Regions from separate parts of the Homo sapiens genome. Here region 2 is linked to region 1. Evidence: fine-mapped QTL for protein levels in blood plasma. A gene starts in region 1. The other region holds a variant in brackets. All regions are shown on one strand. Distances are from middle to middle.

What was found. PIP is the posterior inclusion probability: the model's chance that the variant is causal. The UK Biobank Pharma Proteomics Project read protein levels with antibody pairs (Olink). The fine-mapping took linkage between variants from a reference panel, not from the people measured, so its PIPs are less certain.
Region 2: its variant is fine-mapped to the plasma level of the F12 protein (UK Biobank, PIP above 0.99).

What each region holds. Positions count from the first base shown.
Region 1 is chr5:177,408,299-177,411,211 of GRCh38, reverse strand. It overlaps F12 (coagulation factor XII), which reads left to right and starts at 1,648. Exons shown (of 14, transcript NM_000505.4): 1 at 1,648-1,741; 2 at 2,109-2,166. The coding sequence starts at 1,685.
Region 2 is chr5:177,343,153-177,346,065 of GRCh38, reverse strand. The region is part of intron 2 of LMAN2 (lectin, mannose binding 2); the gene reads left to right. Among named protein-coding and RNA genes, the nearest start is that of LMAN2, 7.1 kb to the left of the region's middle. The variant G/A (reference allele first, on the strand shown) is at 1,304.

The sequences.
Region 1 (2,913 bases):
TCAAACAGGCCCTCCCTAGAGAGTGACAAAGGTGATCATCAATGTGTTCAGACCCACATGCTCTGTGCTTAGTAACCCCAGTGCAACTTTTTTGCTTTCCCAAAAGTTCTGGCAAAAGTCCCAAGCTAGCACTTTAATTGGCCTAAATTGTGTATATGCTTATCTCTGAACCAATCACTGTGGATTAGAGATGTCATGCTCTGATTGACCAGACCTAGGCCACATCTCTAGCCCTAGCTCTGAGGGTAGAGTTGGCAGCACTAGAGCCCATGGAAGAAGTAAGAGAGGAGTCGTTGCTAAAGGAAAAATCAAAGTGTCATTACCGAACCAGGACAGATGCTGGGCAGCACATGTGCACCCCGTCTTCTTCTCATGTTCCAGCTGCACATCTTAGTGCCCCTTGGTTTAGCACTTTTCTCATTAAATCATTTGCTTTCTTGCCTCACTTCCTGTGGTTGGTAGAATGCTAAGATGGCCCCAAGATCTCTACCCCTGGTGTTTGCACACCTCCCAGTTATTCTGTCAAACATGAATGTAGATGCTTCTGTGAAAGAATTTTGCACATGTAATTTAAGTCCCAAATTGTTTGACCTTAAAATAAGGAGAATGGCAGGGCCAGGCATGGTGGCTCATACCTGTAATCCCAGCACTTTGGGAGGCCAAGGCGGGCAGATCACGAGGTCAGGAGATCGAGACCATCCTGGCTAACACAGTGAAACCCCATCTCTACTAAAAATACAAAAAATTAGCTGGGCGTGGTGGCGGGTGCCTGTATTCCCAGCTACCCAGGAGGCTGAGGCAGGAGAATGGCGTGAACCCGGGAGGCGTAGCTTGCAGTGAGCCAAGATCGTGCCACTGCACTCCAGCCTGGGTGACAGAGCCAGACTCTGTCTCAAAAAAAAAAAAAAAAAGGAGAATGGCTTTGGTGGGCCTGACCTAGTCAGGTGAGTTCTTAAAAGGCGACACATGGCCCGGTGCAGTGGCTCAGGCCTGTAATCCCAGCACTTTGGGAGGCCGAGGCGGGTGGATCACGAGGTCAGGAGATCGAGACCATCCTGGCTAACATGGTGAAACCCCGTCTCTACTAAAAAGACAAAAAATTAGCTGGGCGTGGTGGTGGGCTCCTGTAGTCCCAGCTACTCGGGAGGCTGAGGCAGGAGAATGGCGTGAACCCGGGAGGCGGAGCTTGCAGTGAGCGGAGATTGCGCCACTGCACTCCAGCCTGGGCGACAGAGCGAGACTCCGTCTCAAAAAAAAAAAAAAAAAAAAGAAAATTAAAAGTGGGTATTGTTGTAAGATGCTGAGTTTATGGTAGTTTGTTACATGACAATAGAAAATGAACACACTTCACAGTGGACTCCAAGATCCCCATGATCTTTGATCTCCTTAACCTCCTGATCTCCACAGGACCCAGAGCATAAGAATGTCCCTTCTTCTGCTTCCAGTCCCACTATCTAGAAAAGAGAGGAGGAGCCCAGCTCTTCATTTCACCCCCACCCACAAACTCCCAACTTTCCGGCCCTCAAGGGGTGACCAAGGAAGTTGCTCCACTTGGCTTTCCACAAACAGCCTGTGCCCCACCAGGCTCAGGAGGGCAGCTTGACCAATCTCTATTTCCAAGACCTTTGGCCAGTCCTATTGATCTGGACTCCTGGATAGGCAGCTGGACCAACGGACGGATGCCATGAGGGCTCTGCTGCTCCTGGGGTTCCTGCTGGTGAGCTTGGAGTCAACACTTTCGGTGAGTGCTGTGGGAACCAGGATTGTCCCAGGATTGTTCTGGGGGGTCGCTATCACAGCCATGAGCCATGGCCTCTGCTCATGACCTGTGGGTCCAGGTGACTAGGAGGCCTATGTGGAAAGGTGAGGCCAGCCCGGAAGGCCCAGGCAGAGGAGACAGACAACCAGACTGGGTGGATACAAGGGCACAGCCTGCATTTCTGGGGGAGATGGGCCTTAAGAAGACAACGGGGGGAGGTAGAAAGGGTTTGGGTCTTGGGAAGAAATCTCTGCATTTCTGGGCTGTGAGAGGAAGCTGCAGACTAGCAACAGATCGGTGGCAGGCTATGACTTATAGTCAGTTCCCTGCCTTCTTCTCTCCCTTGTAGATTCCACCTTGGGAAGCCCCCAAGGAGCATAAGTACAAAGCTGAAGAGCACACAGTCGGTAAGTGGCCTGGCTCCTCCTCCCGGGAACCCTTGGGTGGGGATGTGTATGGTGCAGTGTGTGCAGTCTCAGGGCAGTCTAGTCTAGTGCCTACCTGGTGCTAGGTCTTATGCCCATGGGCACTAGAGTGATCGTGAGCTGTGTGATCCTTGAGGGCAGGGTATGGGCTGTGTCTAAGTGCCCACGAGCCTGGCTCGGAGCAGGTGCTTGAGATATGTGCTGCTGGCGCCATCACACCTGGGCTCCTGCCAGCCTTCCTCAGTTTCCCCAGCTTCTCCCCTTCTTTTCCTTTCCCCAGTACGTCTCATGGGCATCATTCATGCCACACAGAGGCCAGGGCCTTCAATGGGCAAGGAAGGATCAAGAGCTTGTCTCTGGCATCTGAATGCCTCTGAAGCCCAGCTTTATCACTTATGAGCTGGGTGACTCTGGGCGAGGGATTTGAGTTCTCCAAGCTTCAATTTCCCCTTCTGTGAAACCAGGTTGATAACAGTAAACCTCTTAGGGTTGTTGAGAAGGGAAACCCATGTGAGGTATTCAGCCCATCACCTGGTGCATGGAAATGCTTTACAAATATTAGCTTTTATTATGAAACTACCTTTTAGATGAAGGGTACCTGCCATTTCCCCCTTCCTCAAGCTCTGCCATAGCTCCCCATTGCTTTCATTCTTCCAGACACTAAATTACCTACATGCCAGGCATGGTGGCTCATGCCTGTAATCCCAGCACTTTGGGAGGCCAAGGTCG
Region 2 (2,913 bases), 65 kb after region 1:
CCGGGTGCGGTGGCTCACGCCTGTAATCCCAGCACTTTGGGAGGCCGAGGCAGGCAGATCACCTGAGGTCGGGAGTTCGAGACCATCCTGGCCAACACGGTGAAACCCCGTCTCTATTAAAAATACAAAAATTAGCTGGGTGTGGTGGCGGGCGCTTGTAGTCCCAGTTACTCTGGAGGCTGAGGCAGGAGAATTGCTTGAACCTGGGAGGCAGAAGTAGCAGAGAGCTGAGATTATGCCACTGCACTCCAGCCTGGGCGACAGAGCGAGACTGTCTCAAAAAATAAATAAATAAATAAATAAATAAATAAATAAATAAATAAATAAATGCATGCCATGGCTGCTGCGAGCCTTCCTGACCAACTTGTTCCTCAGCCAGAGCAAACAGTGGTGAGGCAGGAGCAGGAGCGGGCAGACCACAGCTCTGCAGCGCCTGTGGCCCTGTCTTCCTGAAGGAGCAGAAGCTTGCTTTTGGTTAGTGTTTGCATGATACATTTTTCCTGTCCTTTTACTTTTTCCCATTTCTTTATGTTTTAGCGTTTTCTCTTATAAATGGTATATTACTAGGCTTCAGGGGTGTTGTTTTTATGTTGTAAATGCATATAACATAAAATTTACCACTTTAACCCTTTTTACCTTTAAATCCATTAATTTATGAAACTATTTTCTTCAGTAGGCTACACATTGACATTGAAAGAGTGGCTTTTTTTTTTTTTTTTTTTTTTTAGACAGGGTCTTAATCTGTCACCTAGGCTGGAATGCAATGGTGTAATCACGGCTCACTGCAGCCTCGGTCTCCTGGGTGTGATCCTCCCACCTCAGCCTCCTGAGTAGCTGGGACTACAGGCGCACACCACCATGCCTGGCTAATTTTTTTTTTTTTTTTTTGGTAGAAGTAGGGTTTCACCATGTTGACTAGGCTGGTCGTGAACTCTGGGCTCAAGCAGTCCACCCACCTTGCCCTCCCAGAGTGCTGGGATTACAGGCATGAGCCACTGCGCCCAGCCTGACAATGGCATTTAAAAGATGTCATGGCTATGTAAAAAAATGTTTCCACTGTTGTACGTACACATCTGCACATGCAAGAAAATTTCTCAAATCTTTCTTCCTTTTCTTTTCTCTTCTCTTCTTTCTCTTCTTTTCTTTTCTTTTCTTTTTTTGAGACAGGGTCTCACTCTGTTGCCCAGGCTGGAGTGCAGTGGCGCGATCTCGGCTCACCACAACCTCTGCCTCCCGGGTTCAAGTGATTTTCCTGCCTCAGCCTCCCTAGTAGCTGGGACTACAGGCGCCCGCCACCGCACCC[G/A]GCTAATTTTTGTATTTTTAGTAGGACGAGGTTTCACCATGTTGGCCAGGCTTGGTCTTGAGCTCCTGACCTCAGGTGATCTGCCTGCCTCGGCCTCCCAAAGTGCTGGGATTACAGGTGTGAGCCACTGCATCTGGTCAAATTTCTCAAATATTTCTATTGTGATAAAATGTATGTAACACAGGCTGGGCGCGGTGGCTCACGCCTATAATCCCAGCACTTTGGGAGACCGAGGTAGGTGGATCACGAGGTCAGGAGATCAAGACCATCCTGGCCAACATGGTGAAACCCCGTCTCTACTAAAAATACAACTAATTAGCTGGTCATGGTGGCGTGTTCCTGTAATCCCAGCTACTCAGGAGGCTGAGGCAGGAGAATTGAACCAGGGAGGCAGAGGTTGCAGTGAGCTGAGATCACGCCACTGCACTCCACCCTGGCGACAGAGCAAGACTCTGTCTCAAAAAAAAAAAAAAAAAAAAAAGTAACAAAGCGTACCATTTTAACCAGTTTTTAAAATTAAAAAAAAATTTTTTTTTTTTTAGAGATGGGGGGGGTCTCACTTTGTCACGGAGGCTGGAGTGCAGTGGTGCAATCCTAGCTCATTGCAGCCTCGAACTCCTGGAGTCCAGTGATCCTCCTGCTTAGTGTCCTGAGTAGCTGGGATTACAAGGCATGTGCTATTGTGCCTGGCTAATTTTTTTTTTTTTAATTTTTTGTAGAGCTGGGGTCTCACTATGCTGCCCCGGGCTGGTCTCGAACTCCTGGCCTCAAGCAATCCTCCTGCCTTGGCCTCCCAAAGTGCTGGGATTACAGGCGTGAGCTACTGCGCCTGGCCCATTTTAACCATTTTTAAGTGTACAGGTCAGTGGCATTAAGTGCATTCACATTGCTGTGTAGCCATCACCACCGTCTGTCTCCAGAACTCTTTGCTCATCCCAACTGAAACTCTCTACCCATTTAACAATCACTCCCATCCCCACAGTCCCTGGTAACCACCATTCTACCTCATCTCTGTAAATTTGACTATTCTAGGCATCTCACATAAATGATAAATGGAGGCATACAATATTTGTCTTCTTTGACTTATTTTACTGAGCATATGTTGAACGTTCCTCCATACTGTAGTATATGTCAGTACTGCATTCCTTTTTGTTGCTGAGTAATATTCGTGTGTGTGTGTGTGTGTGTGTGTGTGTGTCTAGACCACATTCCGTGTATTCATCTATTCGTAATGGACACTTGGGTTGTTTCCATCTGTTGCCATTGTGAATAGTGCTGCAGTGAACATTGGTATACAAGTATCTGTTTGAATCCTACTTTCAGTTCTTTTGGGTATATACCCAGGAAGTAGAATCTCTGGATCATACGGTCATTCTATTTTTACTTTTTTGAGGACTACCAAACGGTTTTCTGTAGCAACTGCACCATTTTATATTCCCACCAGCAATGCACAAGGATTCCAATTTCTCCACATCCTTGCCAACATTTGTTATTATTTATTTATTTATTGAGATGAAGTCTCGCCCTGTCGCCAGGCTGGAGTGCAGTGGCGCGATCTCGGCTCGCTGGAACCTCTGCCTCCCGGGTTCAAGTGATTTTCCTGCCTCAGC